Regions from separate parts of the Homo sapiens genome. Here regions 2, 3 and 4 are each linked to region 1. The links come from fine-mapping of genetic effects on gene expression. A gene starts in region 1. Each other region holds a variant in brackets. All regions are shown on one strand. Distances are from middle to middle.

Region 1 (8,292 bases):
CCCAGCACTTCGGGGAGCTGAGTTAGGAGGATCACTTAAGCCCAGGCGTCTAAGGCTGCAGTGAGCTAGGATTGCAATAATGCACTCCAGCATGGGTCACAGAGCGAGACCCCCATCTCAAAAAATATATAAGTAAATAAATAAATAATAGAATCATGTAACCACACTCAGAGAACAAGGGAAATTGAGGGGGAACATCACCAAAAACCCCACTTCTCTGTTATATTTTAGTTTCGAGATTTAAAAACATAATATGGATTGGGGATGCTGGAAATACTTGTTATCTAATTGTGGCGATGGCTTCAAAGTATACACAGATGTCAACACTCATCAAATCGCACTCCTTATGCGCAGTTTATGACACTTCAATTATACTTCAATAAAGTTGTAAAAAAAAAAAAAGCTGAGTGTGGTGGCTCACGCCTGTAATCCCAGTACTTTGGGAGGCTGAGGCAGGTGGATCCCCTGAGGTTGGGAGTTCGCAACCAGCCTGACCAACATGGAGAAACCCCGTTTCTACTAAAAATACAAAATTAGCCAGGAATGGTGGTGCATGCCTGTAATCCCAGCTACTCGGGAGGCTGAGGCAGGAGAATTGCTTGAACCGGGAAGCGGAGGTTGTGGTGAGCTGAGATCACGCCATTGCACTGCAGCCTGGGCAACAAGAGCAAAACTCCGTCTCAAAAAAAAAGAAAAAAAGATTGTAAAAAAAAAATTTTTTTTTTTTTTCAGACAGAGTCTCGCTCTGTCACCCAGGCTGGAGTGCAGTGACGCAATCTTGGCTCACTACAAGCTCCGCCTCCTGGGTTCACGCCATTCTCCTGCCTCAGCCTCCGAGTAGCTGGGACTACAGACGCCCACCACCACACCCGGCTAATTTGTTTTTGTATTTTTAGTAGAGTCGGGGTTTCACCGTGTTAGCCAGAATGGTCTCGATATCCTGACCTCATGATCTGCCCGCCTCGGCCTCCCAAAGTGCTGGGATTACAGGCGTCAGCCACGGCACTTGGCAAAAAATCTATTTTTTTTTAAATTACAAAAGATAGGTGGGTTGGCTTGTTTGTTTGTTTTTTCTTGAGACAGAGTCTCACTCCATCACCCAGGCTGGAGTGCAGTGGCGTAATCTCCCCTCACTGCAACCTCCGCCTACTGGATCCAAGCAATTCTCCAGCCTCCGCCTCTGGAGTCACCATGCCCAGCTAATTTTTATATTTTTGGTAGAGACAGGGTTTCACCATATTGGCCAGTCTGATCTTAAACTCCTGACCTCAAGTGACCCGCCCGCCTAGCCTCCCAAAGTGCTGGGATTACAGGCGTGAGCCATAGATAGGCGTTTTATTATGAAGAATTTAGAAAAGCATGATGATTTAGAAAATAAATGTCACCCACTGCTCATAGACAGCTGTGGAGCCCTTGGTGAAGCCCCCTCCTCCTGCTGAACCCCTCAGAAGGCTCCTGGGGTAGCGCTCAGGGCCCATCCAGCCTCCAGCTTCTGCAGCCAAGTTCCAGGGCCCACCTCTGCCCTGCCGGCCTCATGATGCCAGACTCAGCTAGCATCCTTCCCACTGAGGGAACAGCAGCTATCAGCATGAGGCTCTGCCTTCTTCACTGAGTCTTCTCCGCTCAGACTCCAGGGTCCCCATCATCTCCCTGGCCAGTCCCTTCTCAGTCCCTCTGCCTCTACTTCCCCCCTAGTCCAGTAACTGTCCCTTCTCCACCCAGCCTCACGCAGGCAGGGGGAGAGTCTCCAGCCCCGTGGCAACAAACAACATCGATTCACTGGCAACACTCCACTTTCTCTCTGAGGTCTTCATTGCTCCTTGGTGCAACAGGGTCACCCTCTGCCTGATGCCTGCTCATGGATGGGCTATGCGGACCTGAAGCCCTGTGCAGGCACCTCTGCTTGCCTGTTGCAGTCACCATCCCAAAGTCATCCCCATGAGCTGGCCTCCCTCTGTTGGGGAAAAGCTGGGTGTGGGGAGAGAAGCTGAGGCAGGGCTTGCATGTCTGCTAGACTTGCTGGCTCCTTCCTTCTAGCACTCTCATTATCTCAAGTAGCCATATGTTTCAAAGAAAATGCTAAACTGTCACAGCTGTAGCTCATTTGCTTGATACACCGCTTCCTTTCAATCCCCACATCCTCACCACCTGTTTCTTTGTTTGATCACCAATAAATAGCATAGGCTCCTAGGGCTAGAGGCCTTTGCAGCCTCTATACTAGCGTTGGCCCCCTGGTCCCACTTTCTCTCTTGCCTTTTCTCACTCCTTTGACTCCGCCAGACTTTGTCGCCCCCACGGCCTGGTGTTGGGTCTGATCACCCCAACATCCCTCATTCCCCACACCCACTCCATCTACAAGTCCCATGAGTTTTACTTCCAGAATGCTCCTGAATTCTAACCCCTTCTCTGGGGTACCTTGCTTCTGCCCTATTCTGGGTCACCAATGCCTTCCTCATAAACAATTGCCACAATCCCCAACCACTCCCCCTACTCCCACCTCCCACGCCCAACCTTCCATGCAACAGACCCCAGCAAGTCACCCCGCTTCCTGTGCGGTTGAGTACAGCAGCCACGGTGGCCATTGAAACTCACTAACACGAAACCAAACATTCAGTTCTTCAGCTGCCCCAGCCACGTTTCAGATGCTCAGTAATCACACGGGGCAGCTCGTGGCTGCCACATTGTGCAGCACAGATTACAGAACATGCCCATGGTACTGGCAAGTTCTATCGGACAGTGCAGGTCTAGAACCTTTGAGCAGCTTTTCCTTGCATTTAGAATAAAACCCAAACTTTGTGCAGGCCTACAAGGCCCTGCCTCACCTCTGATCCCACTTCCTACTGCCTACACCAGCCTCATCTCCCAACCTGGCTGCTCCTCAAACAGAACTTTGAAGCCTCCTTGTCCTTTGCCTACCTGGTCCTTGTCCTTAGGACCAGCTCAGGCATCACCTCCCCTGGCAAGCCTTTCCCCGAACTGTGCCTTCTCCCACAGGACACACACACCTTTGCTATAGCCGGGCTGTGAATGCCTTATCACTTCCTCCCCCATACACAGGCATCGCTCTCGGTGACCTATCTGCCCTCCAGGCCATGCACACATCTGGTTCCTCATTCCACCAGACCTGGTTGAGCACTTACTCTGAGCTCACTATATGAGAGACATAGGGGAACAAGACAAACAGGTCTGTGACCTTGCAGAGTTTAGATCTAGTTGGAACAGACACTGAGTGGGGGATTACAGAGTGTTATGTGTGTCTAAACCCCATGCCCATGCCCATGCCCTGCTGCATTCCTCCCTAGGGAGGGATGGATGATAAGAAAACTCTACAGGAAAGGCCCAGAGGCTCAGGATAGGGGTGCTTTCAGGGAAGTCCTGAGGAGAGAACAGTGTCCTTGGGGCCAGAAGAGGCTGTCCCACAAGGGAGAAAGCCACTATCTGGACGTGTCCTTGTGCCTAACAAAAAGCCATTTGCTATGCCAAGAGAACAGAGCATGCAAACTCAAACTAAACAGCTTCAGAGTTTACTTAGAGACAGGGTCTTGCTCTGTTACCCAGGCTGGAGTGCAGTGGCGTGATCCTAGCTCACTGAAGCCTCAAATTCCCAGGCTCAGTGCAATCCTCCCACCCCAGCCTCCTGAGCAGGTAGAACTACAGGCACGAGGCACCATGCCAGGCTAATTTTTAAATTTTTTTGTAGAGATGGAGTCTCACTATGTTGCCCAGGCTGGTCTTGAACTCCTGGGCTCAAGCGATACTCCTGCCTCGGCCTCCCAAAACACCAGGATTACAGGCATGGGCCACTGTGCCTGCCTTTATCATACCCATTTTAAAGAAGAGGCCATTGAGGGCTGGGTGCAGTGGCTCACACCTGTAATTCCAGCACTACAGGAGGCCAAGGCGGGCAGATCACGAGGTCAGGAGTTCAAGACCAGCCTGGCCAACACAGTGAAACCCCGTCTCTACTAAAAATACAAAAAACTAGCTGGGCGTGATGGCAGGCGCCTGTAATTCCAGCTACTTGGGAGGCTGAGGCAGCAGAATCACTTGAACCCAGGAGGCAGAGGTTGCGGTGAGCAGAGATCACTCCACTGCACTCCAGCCTGGGCAACAGTGTGAGACTCCGTCTCAAAAAAAAAAAAAAATAGGCCACTGAGGATGAGAGCACTGCTCAGTATGGCACTACTGGGATTCCAGCCCCTTTAGTGGCCAGGGCATCATTTGCATCTCAGTTTCCTCACATGCAAAATGGGCTATTTGCAGCCTGATGGGAAGGGGATGAGAAGGTCCGCTGGGTCCAAGGGACCAGGATGGCAGGAGGTTAGCAAGGCCTGCAGAGGGCAGCAGTGAGCTGCGCACCGCCCACCCAGCCTAGAAACTGGGGCCCATGGGTTTTCCAGGGCAGGAATGTTCTCCAGGGGCACTAATATTAACAGGCAATCACGAAATCGACCCCTACACACCATTTATCAGGTTGTGTTTTATGTTTGCCCCATCTGGGCATTTTATGCAGGATGCTCTCAACATTTTGTACCGTGGCCCACAGGACTGGGTGGAAGACAGGACAGCTCAGAGCAGGGAGTGAAACAAAATCTTTGATGGTTCTCTAGGGAAGCCTGGAAATCTGAGACAGGGCAAAGAGCAGGGAGTCTGATGAGCACAAAATTAAAATACCCAAACCAGCCTGCCGGGTCAGGGGAAAAGGAAGCAGGATTGGGCACATGAAGAACAGATGACAAAACTGAGGCTCAGAGAGGCTGAGAGAGACACTGCTGAGGTCACACAGCCAGGAGTCGGCAGGAAGCCCTGAACCCAAGCAGGGCTGGCCTGGCTACTAGCCTGGGCTCAGTCCTTTAGATTGGACTTCAAAGTATCTGCTCCAGATGACGCTGGCATTGGGAGGAGGGCATGATAATCCCTAACATCCACACAGGGACAACAGCACTTGGAGGCAGATGTGCTTCTCACTTCAAGGAAACTGAGGCAGAGAGGGAGAGGTGGTCAGGACTCAAGCCCAGTAATTCATTTGCCAAATCCTGTTTCCTTTTCCCCCAACCCAGCGGGCTGGTTTGGGTATTTTCAGTTTGTGCCCATCAGAGTCCCTGCAGAGTGCTCTCCACTGTGTCTCAGATCTCTGTGTCCCCAGAGAACCATCAAAGGTTTTGTTTCACTCCCTGCTCTGGGCTGTCTTCCACCCAGCCCTGTGAACCTCAGTGCAGGTTGGCCGCCCCCTTAGAGGGAGGCTAATCAGGGAAGTTCTGAGTCAGGTCGTCCTGGAAAAACTACATTGACCTCTGGAGCTCAAGAGAGGCCAGGGGACAAACACATGGCTCAGCACACAGGAAGGCAGGTGTGGGTATTGAGTGACCTGAGGGAGAAATCCCTATTTATCATCCATCATGTGGTCCTGCTGTGACAAACCCGTGTGGCAGCCACCCACAGCAGATCCACAACGTGAGAGGCCCGCTGAAACAAGGGTGCTGGCATTGGTTACTCAGCCTGGCCCTCCCTGCCTTGCGGGGTGACCTGCCTGGTCCTGGCCTCTCTGTGAGTTGGGCCCTGCTGGGTGGTCCCTAGTGTGCCCAGCCCTGAGGCTGGTGAGAGGCCAGGCTGTGAGGTGTGAGGAACTTACCTGCGTCTCCATGGAAGGTGCCCTCCGCATCGTTGGGCCAGATCTGCCTGGTCTTGCAGATGCCCACGATGGTGGCCTCTGACACGACGACTGGGCAGTGCCGGTGACGCTTATGGCACTGCGGCGTGGTAGGGGCAGAGGGGGGAGGTTGCTTCTGTCGGAGGACTGCTGCGAGTTCTGCCAGAGAGAGCAGCTCTTGTCCCGGAACATGAGGTAGGTGGTGGGGCTTGGGGACACGCGGCTGGACTGGCCGGAGAAGTCCTCCTGGCCGGAGGGGAGCCAAGTGTTCCTGTTCCAGGACTGCAGAACTGGCCCAGACCTCTGTATTGGAAAGGTCTTTATGGACCAGGGAGTCCGGTGTCTTTTTTACGGGGGACCCCTGGGCTGCGAGTTGCACAGTCCAATTCGCTGTTGTTAGGGCCTCAGTTTCCCAAAAGGCACAGGGACGGGGGGAGGGTGGCGGCTCGATGGGGGAGCCGCCTCCAGGGGGCCCCCCCGCCCTGTGCCCACGGCGCGGCCCCTTTAAGAGGCCCGCCTGGCTCCGTCATCCGCGCCGCGGCCACCTCCCCCCGGCCCTCCCCTTCCTGCGGCGCAGAGTGCGGGCCGGGCGGGAGTGCGGCGAGAGCCGGCTGGCTGAGCTTAGCGTCCGAGGAGGCGGCGGCGGCGGCGGCGGCACGGCGGCGGCGGGGCTGTGGGGCGGTGCGGAAGCGAGAGGCGAGGAGCGCGCGGGCCGTGGCCAGAGTCTGGCGGCGGCCTGGCGGAGCGGAGAGCAGCGCCCGCGCCTCGCCGTGCGGAGGAGCCCCGCACACAATAGCGGCGCGCGCAGCCCGCGCCCTTCCCCCCGGCGCGCCCCGCCCCGCGCGCCGAGCGCCCCGCTCCGCCTCACCTGCCACCAGGGAGTGGGCGGGCATTGTTCGCCGCCGCCGCCGCCGCGCGGGCCATGGGGGCCGCCCGGCGCCCGGGGCCGGGCTGGCGAGGCGCCGCGCCGCCGCTGAGACGGGCCCCGCGCGCAGCCCGGCGGCGCAGGTAAGGCCGGCCGCGCCATGGTGGACCCGGTGGGCTTCGCGGAGGCGTGGAAGGCGCAGTTCCCGGACTCAGAGCCCCCGCGCATGGAGCTGCGCTCAGTGGGCGACATCGAGCAGGAGCTGGAGCGCTGCAAGGCCTCCATTCGGCGCCTGGAGCAGGAGGTGAACCAGGAGCGCTTCCGCATGATCTACCTGCAGACGTTGCTGGCCAAGGAAAAGAAGAGCTATGACCGGCAGCGATGGGGCTTCCGGCGCGCGGCGCAGGCCCCCGACGGCGCCTCCGAGCCCCGAGCGTCCGCGTCGCGCCCGCAGCCAGCGCCCGCCGACGGAGCCGACCCGCCGCCCGCCGAGGAGCCCGAGGCCCGGCCCGACGGCGAGGGTTCTCCGGGTAAGGCCAGGCCCGGGACCGCCCGCAGGCCCGGGGCAGCCGCGTCGGGGGAACGGGACGACCGGGGACCCCCCGCCAGCGTGGCGGCGCTCAGGTCCAACTTCGAGCGGATCCGCAAGGGCCATGGCCAGCCCGGGGCGGACGCCGAGAAGCCCTTCTACGTGAACGTCGAGTTTCACCACGAGCGCGGCCTGGTGAAGGTCAACGACAAAGAGGTGTCGGACCGCATCAGCTCCCTGGGCAGCCAGGCCATGCAGATGGAGCGCAAAAAGTCCCAGCACGGCGCGGGCTCGAGCGTGGGGGATGCATCCAGGCCCCCTTACCGGGGACGCTCCTCGGAGAGCAGCTGCGGCGTCGACGGCGACTACGAGGACGCCGAGTTGAACCCCCGCTTCCTGAAGGACAACCTGATCGACGCCAATGGCGGTAGCAGGCCCCCTTGGCCGCCCCTGGAGTACCAGCCCTACCAGAGCATCTACGTCGGGGGCATGATGGAAGGGGAGGGCAAGGGCCCGCTCCTGCGCAGCCAGAGCACCTCTGAGCAGGAGAAGCGCCTTACCTGGCCCCGCAGGTCCTACTCCCCCCGGAGTTTTGAGGATTGCGGAGGCGGCTATACCCCGGACTGCAGCTCCAATGAGAACCTCACCTCCAGCGAGGAGGACTTCTCCTCTGGCCAGTCCAGCCGCGTGTCCCCAAGCCCCACCACCTACCGCATGTTCCGGGACAAAAGCCGCTCTCCCTCGCAGAACTCGCAACAGTCCTTCGACAGCAGCAGTCCCCCCACGCCGCAGTGCCATAAGCGGCACCGGCACTGCCCGGTTGTCGTGTCCGAGGCCACCATCGTGGGCGTCCGCAAGACCGGGCAGATCTGGCCCAACGATGGCGAGGGCGCCTTCCATGGAGACGCAGGTGAGTTCCTCACGCCACGTGCGTGGGCACACCTGCACGGGGGAGGAAAACCATAGACGAGTAGGGGATACAAAACAGAAGTTGGGAGGGAGGAGTGGATAGTTTTGAGTGTATCAGGTGCACTTGTGGTTCACGCGGATCCTGCACCCGAACAAACTCCATCCCCTCCTCCTTCCTGAATGCATACTGTTAGTGTTTGGAATGGAATTGGGTTGAGGATGGTCTTGTGAGGGATGGGAGGTGGTTTGTTCCTTTGGTTCTAGAGCAATGTGTTTGTGAAGTACAGCTTGTGAGTTGAAGGAAGATGCTTCAGGCAGTAACCTCCTTGCTATGTGCTC
Region 2 (4,000 bases), 130 kb after region 1:
TTTCTGGGTCCTTCTGGGCCTGATTCTGAACCATGGGACTGGTGTGGCCTGCAGGCTCCTCCCGCCACAAGCTGTTCATGGTGCAGGGGGAGAACAGTGTCCACAATTCCCCAGACAGCAGCTGTGGATGCCAGGCCCCCAGGAGTTGTTACTGAAGTTGCTGCTGGACAGCTCACCTTTCACTGAGCTCCACATAGCACCCGTGGTGATGGAAGCCGGATGGAGAGAGCCTGCCAGCCTGCACATCAGCTCCCAACTGGGCGGGGCAGAGGGAGGAGGGGGTGGGGACCCCAGGCAGCAGGGCTCTGGGAGCAGTGGGGCCCTGGGTTCCAGGGGTGTCTGGCAGGCCCCTCCTTACTCTACCTCTGTTGGCCTCTGGATGGAGGTGCTGGCCGCAGTCGGGCTCTGCCTCTGACTAAGGGTTGGGGAAGTGGCGGGTGTGGGCTGCTGCCCCGTGGGGCCTCTGAACAGACCCCAGGGCCTCTGCCAATCATGACTCCTTCCTTTCAGCTGGACCCGCAGGCCCTGCAGGACAGAGACTGGCAGCGCACCGTCATCGCCATGAATGGGGTACGTGTCCGTGGGACTCTCCTGGTGCCCACTTCCCCCAGAAGGATAGGGTGGCCTCTGTTCATTTCAAATCAGTCAGAGGTGGCTGAGCCTGAGGCAGCATCTGAGAGGGAGCCTGGTTGGAGAAGGGAGGGCCCCCAAGAGCAGAATCACCATGCACGGGAATCGTCATTCATTGGCTGGAATGCAGTTGCCAGCCAGGCCCTGAGCATCCCTCCTCAAACAAAGGTCTCATGGCACCACCAGGACAGGTGGGGCCTCCACTCAGGGACCTGGGGGCTGCCCATAGAAATGGAGACCCCTGATTTGTCTTTAGGTACCCCAGAAAGGTTTAGACCTTAAAAGCAATGACACACCCAAAAAGGCCCGGGTATAAATGGTAAAATGTTAATATTTGAGATTCTTGGCTTTTTCTTACATTATTCTGTCTTTCCTACTTAATTTTTAATTGTTACTAAGAAAGAGAAAGCCAGGCACAGTGCACCTATAGTCTCAGCTACTCTGGAGTCTGAGGCAGGAGAATCACTGGAACCCAAGAGTTCGATTACAGCCTGGGCAACATTGCAAGCTCCTATATCTAAAAAAAAGCAAGCAAGCAAGAGAAGCAGCGGGGATTTTAGGAGGTGCTTCTGCAGAAACCAGTCGTTTACATCATCTTCAACAATCCTGGCTCTTGCTGAAGTAGACTAGGGGCTTCCCCGAGGGGCGGCTCCACCTCATGCTGAGACCTCTGCATGCCTTGGGGGTGGAAATATTTGATGAGACTCCCAGGGGTCCTTGGGACCTTGGGCTATGAGGACCAGAAGGATTAGAGGACTGTGCCCCTTCTCCCTACTGTAGATCGAAGTAAAGCTCTCGGTCAAGTTCAACAGCAGGGAGTTCAGCTTGAAGAGGATGCCGTCCCGAAAACAGACAGGGGTCTTCGGAGTCAAGATTGCTGTGGTCACCAAGTGAGTGGGGAGGGGCTTGGGCTCACGCACTGAGGGTGCCTGTCCCTTCAGCTGTTTCTGCAGAAAAGAGCATGTGTGGGTCTCTCCTCTCTGTGCGTGGCCACTGCACGGTGAGGTCAGGCCCCAGGGAACACGGCGTCTTCAGCTACCTCCTGTGTTTCCTGCAAACCAGCTCAGGAATGTCCTTGCCACCTGGCTTGGAAGCAGTAGGCTGGCTCCAGGAACTGCCCAAGTGCAGGGTTTTCTGCCCTTGCTTGGAATTTATCACGGTCCCAGATTCCTGTTGAATGGCCGTAACCCCTGCCCCTTTGTCACGAGTCAGTTGCCAAGAGAAGCCTGTTTGGTTTGAGAGCAGTTCATGCAGACATAGACCACTTCCTCTGAGAATTCATTTGCTTCCCCAGGATGGAATCTGGCTGGGCCTCTGACCTTGCTGGTCACGTGGGCCGGGGCCTCCATCAGTCATACCCTGGACTCCTATCTGTGTCTAAACACCACGCCCCACCCCCAACTGCACGGCAGCCACTCGCATAGCACTCTGGGAGGGCTGTGGGCATGAGCAGCGAGGACTCCATCAGCAGCTCCCCCA[G/C]ATAAGCCCTGCTAATGAGGGGGCTTGCGAAGCAGCTTTGATGTGCTGGTAAATCCAGGTGCAAAACAGAACTCAAGTTAAGGCCTCCGCACAGCACTGCGTTCTAACTGTGAAGGATTCTTACTCTAGTGTCCTGTGTGGAGGTATTGGAATTGTCCATTGCTAAGACTCAGAGGAGAAAAGCACTTAGCATCGCAGGACTTGGAGCACCGGTGCTGAGGCAACCCTTCATTCATTCGTCGGATGTGTGTTAAGGCCCAGGCCCAGGGCAGGGGTCAGGGATTCTCCTCTCACACAGCACGTGGGTGGCAGGACCAACACCGGGTCTGACCTCCCAGCCGGGGGTACAGGCTGCTAACCCCAGGCCTGGAATCTGTCAGATGCCCTTCCCGTGCTGACTTGACATAGACAGGCCTCCTGACCTTCCCGCAAAGGTCATGTGTGATTCGCAGGGGTTCTGGCCGCTTGAAAGGTTCCTGAGAAAGTACATGCCATGAGGACAGAGCTTGCAGAGGGAGGACAGGCATGCAGAAGGCTCTGTGTGCAGCCCCAGACCTGGGTACCTTCGTCACCGTCCTCACCCCACCTCCGGGTGTGCAGATATGGAGCAGGTCTCCTGTGTTATGGCCCAAGCAGGGCTGTTAGGACACTGAGAACATTCCCTCCTCCCGCAGGAGAGAGAGGTCCAAGGTGCCCTACATCGTGCGCCAGTGCGTGGAGGAGATCGAGCGCCGAGGCATGGAGGAGGTGGGCATCTACCGCGTGTCCGGTGTGGCCACGGACATCCAGGCACTGAAGGCAGCCTTCGACGTCAGTGAGTGTTGGCCTGCGCAGGACGGGATGGAGGTGTGGGCAATGGTGTCCGCGATGAGATCTCAGAGTGCTCCATGGCCCAGGCATGTCACATCCTTCTCTGTGTCTTTTCTTCATTTACTGTGTTATTATTTTTAAAAAAGAGAAGACAAGAGTTGTAGAAAAAGCCTCTGTAGAAACCAGTTTTTAAACCATCCTAGCCATGCATGCCACTTGCTGGGGTAGGCCAGGGGTTTCTGCAGGGCCTTGGCCTTCCTGCCTTGGGGTTGGACAGGAGGTGGAAGCCCAGGACTCAGTGCAGTCTGTCCCCTGCCATGTGTGAGGATGCGGCAGGCAGAGGGCACTGATGAAATTCAGCCCAGGCTGGGGCTGCAGCATCTCTGCCTCCATCTCACCAACCCTCACAGGCTATGAAGGACCTGGAACTGTCACAAATGCCAGGGGAGGGCACTGAGACCCCAGAGGGTCCCTCCCAGCATCTTCAACAGGATTTTGTGCCTGCAGACCCTTCTTTGGGGCACACACCACCAACCCTGACCAGGACCCCTAGAATGCCCAGCATCCCTGGGAGGGCCCTGTGGTAGTTTCAGCTCCCTCTGGGGGCCCAGAATGAACCTGGCCTGTGGTGAGGATGTAAGCACCAATGGCCAATTGGGTCCAAAGGAAGACACCGGTTCAAACACTGAAACCAATCAGATTCTCCCACGGCCTTCCTGCTATCAGACGACACTGGTGCAGGGGTGGTTGCTATGTACAGGGCAGAGCCACCCAATCCCCACGCAGGCGCTGTGTCCTGCCACGCTGGCCTCCTCCTGGCCATCACATCAGGCCAAGCAGGGGAGAGGAATGGGAATGCCCACGCACCCCTATCAACTCTGCAGACACAGAACCATGCACAGCTCTTGGGAGGAGTCAGATGAGCTGCTCAAAGCCCAGGAGGGACCCGCACAGTGGTCAGCATGGCAGGGACAGTGCTTTAGCCAAGGCAGGGATGGTGGGAGACTCACTCGGGATCCTCAAGGAGGCCGCTGCATTTCCGTGCTCTTTCCAGATAACAAGGACGTGTCGGTGATGATGA
Region 3 (4,000 bases), 23 kb after region 1:
GGAGGCAGAGGTTGCAGTAAGCCAAGATCACACCATTGCACGCCAGCCAAGGCGACAAGAACGAAACTCCGTCTCAAAAAAAAAAAAAAGAATTTGGCCCTAACAAATGCAGGTTGTGATTATTAACATAAGTCTGGTTTCCTCTCTCATGGCATTTCTTTAGTGGCCAGATGGTGTGAGTGGCTCCAGAAGACTCTTCTCTTCTCTGTGCAAGAGCCAGGAAGGCTCTAGAAAGGAATGTCTGAGGAAGCATCGGAGACTGGGTCCCGCCATGCCTGTGTCATCTCCTGGCTTCCCCGGCCCTTGTGAGCCCCGCGGTTGCTTATTTATCCTGCTAAGGCCACAGTCTCAGGTTCCAGAAACTCTGGCAAGGAAGTCTGGGAAGGTTGATGGGGATGGGCTGGCGGGCTGGGAGAGGTGCTTTGTTTTCACTCCTCAGGAAGCTTGAGGCTTCTTGTGGAAGCGTCTGCTGCTTTGGGCTGGGCAGCTGCGCCCCCAGAAAGCCAGCTAGGGGTCTGCCGCCTAATACCATGGGTGGAAACTATTGCAGTCAGCTGTTGGGATGCAGGGGAAGGTATTGGTAGGACTGGGGTGCCCTGTCTCCTTTGTCCCCATGAGTGCAGGGGATAGATCTGAAAGGAGAGGGGAAAATGGATGTTTTCTTCTTTGTCTCTCCTTTCTCCCTGCTTTCAAGTCTGTGAATTAATTGGAGTCATTCCCAAGGGAGGAGGGTCACTTTATTGAATTTTAAGACAAGGCGGGGCCAGGCGCGATGGCTCACGCCTGTAATCCCAGCACTTTGGGAGGCCAAGGCGGGCAGATCATGAGGTCAAGAGACCATCCTGGCTAACACAGTGAAACCCCGTCTCTACTAAAAATACAAAAAAAAAATTAGCCGGGCGTGGTGGCGGGCGCCTGTAGTCCCAGCCACTCAGGAGGCTGAGGCATGAGAATGGCATGAACTCGGGAGGCAGAGCTTGCAGTGAGCCAAGATCCACCACTGCACTCCAGCCTGGGTGACAGAGCAAGACTGCGTCTCAAAAAAAAAAAAAAAGCAAGACAAGGCATATGACAGGGCATGATACTGACGAGACCTTGGACATCAAAGGCTGGAGCAGGACTTCCTCCTAGGGAACATCCTCAGATATGTAGATGTCACCGTGTGGGCTCAGACATCCAGGGTGGACCAGAGCCGGTGGCTTAGGTCTGGTGGTCTGTCCCTGACTGCACTTTTTTCAGAGCTGTTTTGGTTTGAAGCTCAAAGCGGGCTTTTTATTTATTTATTTAGAGACAGGGTCTTACTCCGCTGCCCAGGCTGGTGCAGTGGCACACTCACAACTCACTGCAGCCTCAACCTCCTGGGCTCAAACAGTCCCCTCATCTCAGCATCTCAAGTAGCTGGGACTACAGGCATGCACCACCATCCCCCCAGGTAATTTTTAAATTTTTTGTAGAGACAAGGTTTCACTATGTTGCCCAGGCTACAAGAGGACTTTAACTTTTTTTTAATTAAAAAAAAATTTTTTTTGAAACAAGGTCTCACTCTGTCGCCCAGGCTGGAGTGCAGTGGTGCGATCATGGCTCACCGCAGCCTTGACCTCTCCAGGCTCAGGCGATTCTCCCACCTCAGCCTTCTGAGTAGCTGGGACGGCAGGCACATGCCACCATGCCCAGCTAATTTTTGTATTTTTTTGTAGAGATGAGGTGTCTTCATGTTGCCCGTGCCAGTCTCAAACTCCTGGGCTCAAGCGATCCACCCGCCTTGGCCTCCCAAAGTGCTGGGACTCCAGGCATGAGCCACCATGCCTGGCCAAGGGGGCTTTTCAAAGGCTGGGCTGGGCTGTTCATTTGGAAAAAAGGTTGGGGATGTTTTCACTTCACCAGGACTTCTGCCAGTCAGCAGGCTGGTACATTAGGAGCCCAAGTTTTGCCTGGTGCTGGTGGACGGGTCTAGGCCTGAGAAGCCGTAGTCTCCTAGTGCTTGGTGCTGCTAAGCCCAAAGAACAGAGTGGTTACAGGAAATGGAACATTTAGTCTGGCAGAGGCCAAGGGCAGCAGGTCCCTACTCTGGCTGCCCATGTAGTTAAAAAGTCACACACGTGCGCAGCTGGTCTGATTAATGAGTTTGTTTTTTGATGTCACAGTTTCTGGGCACAGCAGAGCTGGCTCCTCTGCTTGGGGTCTCCTCAGGCTGCAGTTGAGGTGTTGGCCGGGGCTGCATTCCCTGCTGGGGCTTGGGGTTCTCTTCTAAGCTCACCTGGGTTGCTGGCAGTGCTTACCTCCTGGCAGTTGTAGGACTGAGTCCCCATTTCCTTGCTGGCATTGGCTGGAGGCCCCTTCTAGAGCCCACCCTGTTCATAGGCAGTTCACACACAGCTGTTTGCTTTTCTCTTCTCAGTGAATCTGGTTTTTTTGTTTTTTCGTTTTTGAGACGGAGTCTTGCTCTGTT[C/G]CCCAGGCTGGAGTGCAGTGGGGCGATCTTGGCTCACTGCAAGCTCCGCCTCCTGGGTTCATGCCATTCTCCTGCCTCCGCCTCCTGAGTAGCTGGGACTACAGGCACCCACCACCATGCCCGGCTAATTTTTTGTATTTTTAGTAGAGGTGGTTTCACCATGTTAGCCAGGATGGTCTCGATCTCCTGACCTTGTGATCCGCCCTCCTCGGCCTCCCAAAGTGCTGGGATTACAGGTGTGAGCCACCGCGCCCGGCCAAGTCTGGGTTTTTTGAAAAGCTCCCTGGGTGACTTGACTCTAGCCCTCAGGGTTCAGACCCTTCGGTTTCTGGGAGTCCGTGGACATTGGCTGCAGGTTTTGAAAGGCTGGCATCTCAAGAGGGGAGCAGATGAAGAGTCATGGGGAAGGTTCCTGTGCAGTATGAGGAAGGTTTAATTTTCTTGCCAACTTTTGAGATAATTATGTGTAAATCTTTTTTATATAGTTAAGATGTTGCTGTGTAGTTGGGTGTCCGGCCTTAGTTAATGTGAACGTTTCCATGTATTAGTAAATCTTGTGTAAATATTATTTTTAAGGGCCATATTATTACTTTGTAGTGGAGTTATGGTTTAATTTATCTAATTTTAATGAATTTTTGTTGGACATTTCGAGTGGTTCTTTATGCAGCTGGTTAGTATAATGTTTCAGTGAACTTCTCTCTCTTTTTTTAAATAGCTTCACTGAGGTAATTCATGTACCATACAATTCAACCCTTTAAAGCAGCCAATTTAATGGGTTTTGGTATATTACATTATTACTTTTTAAAAATTATGGTGAAATATATATACAAATTTGACATTTTAACCACTAAAAATTAAAATTATGGTAAAATAACATAAAATTTACCATTTTTAGCCGCACAGCTAAATGGTGTTAAGTATATTCCTGTCATGCACCCATCACTATCATCCATCTCCAGAACTCTTTCCACCTTGCAAAACTGAAAATCTGTACTCATTTCCACCCATTAAAGAACAGTGCTTCTTCCCCCACGCCCAGTCCCTGTAACCACCATTCTACTTTCTATCTCTAGGAATCTGACGACTCTAGAAACTTTATTTAAGTGGAATCATGCAGTATTTGTCTTTTTGTGACTTATTTCACATCATGTCCTCAAAGTTCATCTGTGTTTTACTGTGTTTCAGAACCCCTTCCTTTTTAAGCTTGAGTAATAATTCAATTGTTTGTGTGTGTGTGTGTGTGTGTGTGTGTATATATATATATATTTAATCTATCATTCATTGATGGGCACTTGGGTCATTTTAACCATTTTTAAATGTACAGTTCAGTGGCATTAATTACATTCAGTGAATTTTTTTGTGGGGTTTTTTTTTTGTTTGTTTTTGAAACAGGATCTCGCTCTGCCATCTCACTCTGCATCTGCACTGGTGCAGTAAGAGCTCACTGCAGCCTTGACCTCCTGTGATCCTCCCACCTCAGCCTCCTGAGTAGCTGGGACTACAGATGCACATCACTACACTCATCTGTCGTTTTTTTTCTTTTTGTAGAGA
Region 4 (8,292 bases), 140 kb after region 1:
GCAGGCACCAGCTGGGCAGTGTTAGGATGCTGGAGCAGCATCCGTAACCCCACTGAGTGGGGTAGTCTGGTTGGGGCAGGGACCGCTGTTGCTTTGGCAGAGAGAGATGATCCCCACTGGGGAGAGGCTGTTCTGACTCTGCAGGTGGGACAGGGACAGATGGCCACCAGGGTGACCCGGCTGGTCTTCCTTTGCTATGCTAAGCCCTGGGACATGGAGGATTCCTGCCACCCTGGGCCCGGGTTCTTACCTGTGGCCACCGCTCTGGCACGAGCCCCTCAGTCTTGGGTGGTTTCTGCCTGGTCCGGGATTTGGTGTTGCTGCTGAGTCCAGCCTTTCCACCACCTCCGCATGGGCCGTGGGTGTTGTCAGCTGCCTCCCGCCTTGGCTTCAGTAGCTCACCCAGCTTACAGGGGAGCTGCCCTGGGCTGGAGATGGGCATGCACCCTGGGTCCTACTTGAATGAATGCAGCTTGAGGAGAGCCGGCCATATACACTGGGCCACAGGTTACCCTCGGCAATGCCCACAGCTGTCAGCCTGAGCCTCCCCAGGAGAGCAAGGCTCACACGACAAAGGCTGCCCGTGGCCAGTGAGGTGGCTGAGCCCAGCCAGGACCTTTCTCGGACTCCCGGGATGTGGCTCTGCTCGTGAGCTGCCTGGTCAGCTCTCTCGGGGTGAGAGGGGCTTGTCACACGGGCGCCTGCCTGCAGTGTGACCCTTCTCAGCTTCTCTCAGCAGCCCTGCCTGCGGAGTGTCACCGCCACCATGATCATTTCCCTGACACTGCGAGGGTGGGGGGACGTCCTGGGTAGAGACAGGGCCCGTGGCAGCAGCAGGCTCAGGGGAGCCCTGCACTGGTGGACTGGGGACCTGGTGGAGACCACGCCAAGGGCTGGACAAGGGGACGAGCCTCCACCCTGGCCTCTCCGCAGGCCTCAGCAGCCCCTCCCACAGGCAGAAGGGTTGACACTGGGTTCTGCCCTCACTGCAAGAGCTGCAAGTGCCACGTGCTGTTCTGCCCAATCTGGTGTCTGCAGGTGAGGAAAGGACTGCCGCTGGCCCGTTTCTGAGTGTTCAGCACCTAAGGGTGACAGCACTGTCTGTCCCTACCCTCCGGGTCCTGTTTGAAGATCAAACCCATGCTCACAGGCCGATATTTTTTTCTTTTAGAGACAGGGTCTCACTTTGTCACCCAAGCTGGAGTGCAGTGGTGCGATTATAGCTCAATGCAGCCTCCAATTCCCGGACACAAGGGACCTTCCTGCCTCAGCCTGCCAAGTAGCTTGGACTATAGCTGTGTGTTTTCTTATTATTTTGTAGACATGGGGTCTGGCTATGTTGTCCAGGCTATTCTCAAAATTCCCAGCCTCAAGCAATCCTCCCGCCTCAGCCTCTCAAAGGTTGGGATTACAGGTGTGAGGCAAGGCACCCAGCTCAGCCACAGAGCCCTATTGCATCTCTCTTACTAAGAGCAAGAGCTGACTTCCCCCTCATCCCCATTCCAGAGTGTTGGGGCTGTGTTCAGCCGAGGCCAGGCCACTGGCATGGGCCCAGGGAGCGGGATCATTCACTGCTGCCCCAAATCTGAGATCATTCCACCTTGACAAGACTTCCTCATCCAATCCCTTTACTTGACAGCTGGGGAAACCAGTGCACACAGAGCACCCCCAGCTCAGTCAGGGTCTCAGAGCTGATCCATGAGCGGAGGCTGAGATCCTGGGATCTTGTCCCCCAGCCTCCCTGCAAGCTTACTCCCTTTCTTCTAGAAGAGATGGGGCCAGACCTCGACCAGCAGCCCTGGCCTGGACATGACTGTGCTCATGCAGGTATTGAGGCTGAGATGCCCCGGCATCACATTTTTTTCTTTCTTTTTTTCTTTTTTTTTTGAGACGGTGTCTCACTCTGTCACCCAAGCTGGAGTGCAGTGGAATGATATTGGCTCACTGCAACCTCTGCCTCCCGGTTAAAGTGATTCTCCTGCCTCAGCCTTCCAAGTAGCTGGGCCTACAGGCTTGTACCACCACGCCTGACTAATTTTTGTATTTTTACTAGAGACGGGGTTTCCTCATGTTGGCCAGGCTCGTGTCGAACTCCTGACCTCAGGTGATCCACCTGCCTTGGCCTCCCAAAGTGCTAGGATTACAGGCATGAGCCATGGCATCACTTAAACGTAGTGAGAGGCCGGGCGCAGTGGCTCATGCCTGTAATCCCAGTACTTTGAGAGGACGAGGCTGTCAGATCACCTAAGGTCAGGAGTTCGAGACCAGCCTGGCCAACATGGTGAAACCGTGTCTCTACAAAAAAACAGAAAAAAATATCCCTGCGTGGTGGTGAGTACCTGTAGTCCCAGTTACTCAGGAGGCTGAGGCATGAGAATCGCTTAAACCTCGGAGGCGGAGGCTGCAGTGAGCTGAGATGGCGCCACTGCACTCCAGCCTGGGTGACAGAGCAAGACTTTGTCTCTAAATAATTAAATAAATAAATACGGCCGAGCATGTGCCTTAGGCCTGTAATCCCAACACTTTGGGAGGCTGAGGCAGGTGGTTCATGAGGTCAGGAGCCCGAGACGAGCCTGGCCAAGATGGTGAAACACTGTCTCTACTAAAAATACAAAAATTAGCCAGCTGTGGTGGCAGGCACCTGTAATCCCAGCTACTTGGGACACTGAGGCAGGAGAATCGCTTGAACCTGGAAGGCAGAGGGTGCAGTGAGCCAAGATTACACCACTGCACTCTAGCCTGGGCGATGGAGCAAGACTCCATCTCAAATAAATAAATTAATAAATACAGAGCAAGATTCCATCTCAAATAAATAAATGTACACCTGTAATCCTAGCACTTTGGGAGGCTAAGACAGGTCGATCACCTGAGGTCAGGAGTTCGAGACCAGCCTGACCAATATGGCAAAACTCCATCTCTACTAAAAATACAAAAATTAGCCGGGCGTTTTGACGTTTGCCTGTAGTCCCAGCTACTCGGGAGCCTGAGGCGGGAGAATCACTTGAACCTGGGAGGCGGAGGTTGCAGTGAGCCAAGATGGGGTGACTGCAGTCTAGCCTGGACAACAGAGAAACTCCGGCTCAAAAGAAAAATATAACTTCATAAAAACGAAGTAGGAAGAAACAGAAAACCTTGTCTAGATCTAGAACCATTAAAGGAATTGAATGTTTATTTTAAAATCTGTATCCCATCCAGTCAAAAATCTCACAAAAAACAAAACCAAAGAAAAGCACCTGGCCCAGATGATTTTATAGATAAGTTCAGCAAACATTAAGAAGAACAGAAAGTCTTTATCTTCTACAGAATTTTTTTAAAATAATTTATTTATTTATTTATTTTTGAGAGGAAGTCTCGCTCTGTAGCCCAGACTGGAGTGCAGTGGCATGATCTCTGCTCACCGCAAACTCCGCCTCCCAGGTTCAAGCGGTTCTCCTCCCTCAGCCTCCACAGTAGCTAGGATTACAGGTGTGCCTGGCTAATCTTTTGTATTTTTAGTAGAGACGG[G/A]GTTTCACCATGTTAGCCAGGGTGTTCTCGGACACCTGACCTCAGGTAATCCACCTGCCTCGGCCTCCCAATGTGCTAGGATTACAAGCACGACCCACAGTGCGCGGCCTACATAATTTTTTTTTTTTTTTTTGAGACGGAGTCTCGCTCTGTCGTCCAGGCTGGAGTGCAGTGGCGCGATCTCGGCTCACTGCAAGCTCCGCCTCCCGAGTTCAGGCCATTCTGCTGCCTCAGCCTCCCGAGTAGCTGAGACTACAGGCGCCCGCCACCACACCTGGCTAATTTTTTGTATTTTCAGTAGAGACGGGGTTTCACCGTGTTAGCCAGGGTGGTCTCGACCCCTGTCCTCGTGATTCGCCCGCCTTGGCCTCCCAAAGTGCTGGGATTACAGACATAAGCCACCACACACGACCCCGGCCTACATAACCTTACAGAAAAAGAAGCAAATGGAATTCTCCCCAACTCATTGTGAATTTAATATAAGCTTAAAACCAAACCAGACATAAATAGTACAAGCAGGCAAAAGTATAGACTAACTTCTTATGGACATATATGCAAAAATGCTAAATAAAATATTAGCAAATAATCCAGCAATGGATTAAACATGTATCATGACCAAGTTGGGGTTTTCCTAGGAAACTAAGATGATGTAATAAAAGAAAAAACTATTAAAGTAGTACAAACTATCAAAGGAAAAAACCTGTATGATCATTGCAACGGGTTCATTTGCGACATAATATAATTTTTTTCTTTTTTTTTAAGTCTTTTTGGCTGTAAGTTTATTCAATGCAAAATAATCTTCTCCAATTTTACTGAGGTGGCTGACGGCGTCCACGACCAAATCTGCCTCTAAACTGGAATTCGGTTGCTGACCCAGCCGCAGCCTCGGCTTTCTTGTTGGCACCAGGGGGCATAGCATTCCCTCTGTAGGTATCTCTGTCGGCTTCCCCTCTCGTTGAGTCTTGCAGGTCGCTCACCCTCCAGACCTTTAGACTGAGGCCTGCCAGTCCATGGACGGCTGCGGCGTAGGGTGGCAGGCACAATCTCCAGGGGCAGATGAAGGTAATCACGGAGATACTGGATATCCTCATTGGTAAGGTACCAGCAGACATGACTCCAGGCAAACTGTTCCTTCATGTAGTAGCCTCGGGACTTGAAAGACTGCATGGCCTTCATGACATGAAGGTTGGGCACATTCTTCCTTTTTTTTTTTTTTTTTTTGAGACGAGTCTCACTCTGTCGCCCAGGCTGGAGTGCAGGGCCATGATCTCGTCTCACTGCAACCTCCGCCCCCTGGGTTCAAGCGATTCTCCTGCCTCAGCCTCCTGACTAGCTGGGGTTACAGGGAACAGTGTTTTCTTTTGTCAAAAGAGCCTCTTAAGCCATTGATAATATTTCCCAAGCTTGTAACAGATACAAGCCTTTAAAGAATGACATTTGCAGTCACCCAGTAGGACATATCTTGAGATGAAATCAGAGTTGTGGGCTTTGCAGACAACAGCAGTCATTTCTGGTGGCTTCCGGGAGTGGAGGGGGACTGCAGCTTTGGCAATGTAGGTGATACCAAAAGGACTATAGTAATTTTTTCTTAGTAATTAAAAACTAGGCTGGGCGCGGTGGCTCATGCCTGTAATCCTGGCACTTTGGGAGGCCAGGGTGGGTGGATCACCTGAAGTCAGGAGTTTGAGACCAGCCTGACCGACATGGTAAAATCCTGTCTCTACTAAAAATACAAAAATTAGCTGGGCATATTGGCGCGTGCCTGTAATCCCAGCTACTGAGGTGGGTGAGGCAGGAGAATTGCTTGAACCCGGGAGGCAGAGGTTGCAGTGAGCCAAGATCGTGCCACTGTACTCCATCCTGGGTGACAGAGCAAGACTCCATCTCAAAAAAACAAAACAAAAACCAGACATAACAAGGTCGAGCTCAGTGGCTCCCGCCTGTAATCTCAGTAGTTTGGGAGGCCGAGAAGGGCAGATCACCTGAGGTCAGGAGTTCAATAACAACATGGTGAAACCCGGTCTCTACAAAAAATATAAAAATTAGCCAGGCATGGTGGCACACGCTTGTGATCCCAGAGGCTCGGGAGGCCAAGGCAGGAGAATCACTTAGGAGGCGGAGGGTGCAGTGAACTGAGGTCTTGCCACTGCACTCCAGCCTGGGCGACAGAATGAGACTCCGTCTCAAAAAAGAAAAAAAAATCCCCAGCCATAACAATATACATGTATGTTATACAATAACCAAACCAATATAGAAGGGTATATAGTGAAAGGAGAAGTATTGTTGTGGGTAAAATTGTTTCTATGAATAAATGGCTGATCCAGTATTTTTTTCCTCCAAAAAAACACCTTTTCCCCTTTGATTTAGTGTATACCACACAGAGTCGCTTAGCCGATTCAGTGACTTTTTTGATAGCTGGAGAATGCTTCCTAATGGTTGCAGGTGTGTAGGGGTTTTCTTGACATTTTCAGTAAGAAAGTGAATGTTGTGCCATAGGAAAGCTTTATCACAGGTGCACGTTGGTAGCCAACCAAATAACGTGAGTGTCAAGTACAGTATCTAGTGAGTGGAGAATAACTGTAATAATTACAATTACAGTTGTAGTTAAAGTGAAGTTTGTATCAAAATTTCTGTTTCAAAGGTGAACTTTTAGGGGGTGTATCTGCAGTGTTTCCTCCTCAGATGTGATTTCTCTGAAGCAGTGGTTCTCTATAACTGACTTGACACACAGTGCATCTGATATTTCGAATGACTTAAGTGATAGTATCAAAATTACTATCATATACATATTTAAATCACATGACTAACTTGTGTGTGGTATTATGCAAACTGCTCAGCTCAGTAAGGGAACAGAAATAAGAAAAAAAAAGGACAATATTGGGAGTCTTTTATACAATTAAATTTGTTCGATTAAAGGACTATCCTTTCTAAAAAAAAAAAAAAAAAGTCCTGCTTTCTTGGTGTTAAAATAAAGCATCTTTTATGAAATGATGGTGATAGTAAATGGTGATATACAGTAAATGTAAATAATAGCAAATACAAGGTTAGTTATCTTATTGTGATTTGTAAAAATAAAGAGAGCCGAGAATCTCGTTTTGCTGCTATTGTTTGGGAGTTCAGGAAAAAGTTCCTGGGGCTTTTGTTGTTAAGAAGATTCAAATACAAATTATTTCTTAAGAGTAAATATGAGTTTATTTTGAGGTCATTTGTCACAGTCTACTGAGAAATCCACTGAGAAAGCTTTTAAGTTTGCCTGGTATTAAAGATGTTCCTATTCTGATCATTGTTAAATAGATCTTTTCTTATTAGATATAAAATGTCAGGAGATATTTTATTTTGAGACAGAGTTTCGCTCTTGTTGCCCAGGCTGGAGTCTAATGGCATGATCTCGGCTCACCGCAACCTCTGCCTCCCAGGTTCAAGCGATTCTCCTGCCTCAGCCTCCCAGGTAGCTGGATTACAGGCATGTGCCACCACTCCTGGCTAATTCTGTATTTTTAGTAGAGACAGTGTTTCTCCATGTTGGTCAGGATGGTCTGGAACTCCCGACCTCAGATGATCCGCCCGCCTCAACCCCCAAAGTGCTGGGATTACAGGCACAAACCCCCTCACTCGGCCCCAGGAGATTTTTTTGTGTTGTGCCAACAAAATAAGCCTAGGCAGGGAAATTCCTTCTGGTGGTTGGAATTGTTAGTACTGAATAGACTAGCTGCGAGGTAAAAACCCCCATGGGGTTTTCTGTCAGCTCAGATATCATTGTGACCCCAGTCTTTTGCTGTGAAATAACATGACCATTAAGAAAGTAGCCTTAAACAACGTATTTTGGGTATGTTGAGGAGGAGGGACAATTATGATCTGTTCCAAAGTGAACATAACAGATGATCCCTGTGTCTGTGAAGCCTTTAAAATTTATAGTGCTCTTCTTCTGTTAATTTCAAGTAAGATTTAGTTATTGTGACATACTCTTTAAAAACCTGCGGTGTATCAAAAGGCTCATTTTTAAAGCATCTTGAAAGGAAATTAATAATGTAATATCTACTTCAGAATAGTAGTTTTTACATTCTGAAGAGTGACTGACTGCTCTCAGCCACTTCTGAATTCTCAATTTTCAAAGGATAATTTGGTAACTCCATAAAGAAAATCCGTAAATAAGAGAGTGAATATCTTCTTTTTGTTTGTTTGTTTTTGAGATGGAGTCTCCCTCTGTCGCCCAGGCTGGATTCCAGTGGCCTGATCTCGGCTCACCGCAAGCTCCGCCTACCGGGTTCACGCCATTCTCCTGCCTCAGCCTCTGGAGTAGTTGGGACTACAGGCGCCCGCCACCACACCCTGCTAATTTTTTGTATTTTTAGTAGAGACGGGGTTTGACCGTGTTAGCCAGGATGGTCTCGATCTCCTGACCTCGTGATCAGCCCGCCTCGGCCTACCAAAGTGCCGGGATTTAAGGCGTGAGCCACAGCGCCCGGCCCCGAGAGTGAATATCTTTTAACAGTGTTTTTCCTGATCTTTTCCAACATCTTCATTGTGGTTCTGTCCTTTATTTTTTGGTTAAATCCAGAGGTTTACTTCTGCCTGTATCTTTCCAAACTATTAATCTGTTCACAATCACTCTCCCATTTAAACCCTTCAGCAACCCCAGTACCTTCGTAATAAGGTCTCCTTAGCTTGGTATCCAGAACACTTCAATACTGGGCTTTGACCCCTGTTCTCCTTCCCCCACCTCTGTTTAGGTGCTTCACTGAGCTGCACCGAACAGCTCTTGGCCCCTTGAAATCTCTGCAGTCTCCT

Alleles and levels. Alleles are on the strand shown, and positions count from the first base shown. SD is a standard deviation of normalised expression in the study named. Not every link is listed here.
For the expression in monocytes of the gene that starts at base 6,224 in region 1, allele G in region 2 goes with a lower level than allele C (large effect, 1.2 SD a copy in Fairfax 2014).

What was found. PIP is the estimated chance that this variant, and not a neighbour inherited with it, causes the effect.
Region 2: its variant is the best candidate, but not a certain one, in a credible set for the expression of BCR in monocytes (Fairfax 2014, PIP 0.76).
Region 3: its variant is the best candidate, but not a certain one, in a credible set for the expression of BCR in whole blood (INTERVAL, PIP 0.62).
Region 4: its variant is the best candidate, but not a certain one, in a credible set for the expression of BCR in whole blood (INTERVAL, PIP 0.72).

What each region holds. Positions count from the first base shown.
Region 1 is chr22:23,174,286-23,182,577 of GRCh38, forward strand. BCR (BCR activator of RhoGEF and GTPase) reads left to right here and starts at 6,224. Exons shown (of 23, transcript NM_004327.4): 1 at 6,224-7,954. The coding sequence starts at 6,676. It also overlaps a transcript of RSPH14 not described here and the pseudogene BCRP8. RefSeq lists enhancers at 2,084-2,183, 5,144-5,954 and silencers at 2,571-2,670, 6,075-6,314, 6,385-6,654, 6,675-6,754.
Region 2 is chr22:23,308,914-23,312,913 of GRCh38, forward strand. BCR (BCR activator of RhoGEF and GTPase) reads left to right here. Exons shown (of 23, transcript NM_004327.4): 17 at 511-570; 18 at 1,411-1,520; 19 at 2,784-2,923; 20 at 3,974-4,000. It also overlaps the pseudogene POM121L11P. Among named protein-coding and RNA genes, the nearest start is that of LINC02556, 16 kb to the right of the region's middle. The variant G/C (reference allele first, on the strand shown) is at 2,110.
Region 3 is chr22:23,199,048-23,203,047 of GRCh38, forward strand. The region is part of intron 1 of BCR (BCR activator of RhoGEF and GTPase); the gene reads left to right. Among named protein-coding and RNA genes, the nearest start is that of BCR, 21 kb to the left of the region's middle. RefSeq lists an enhancer at 1-866 and a silencer at 2,294-2,470. The variant C/G (reference allele first, on the strand shown) is at 2,450.
Region 4 is chr22:23,318,224-23,326,515 of GRCh38, forward strand. It overlaps the pseudogene POM121L11P and the pseudogene RPS10P30. Among named protein-coding and RNA genes, the nearest start is that of LINC02556, 4.2 kb to the right of the region's middle. The variant G/A (reference allele first, on the strand shown) is at 3,505.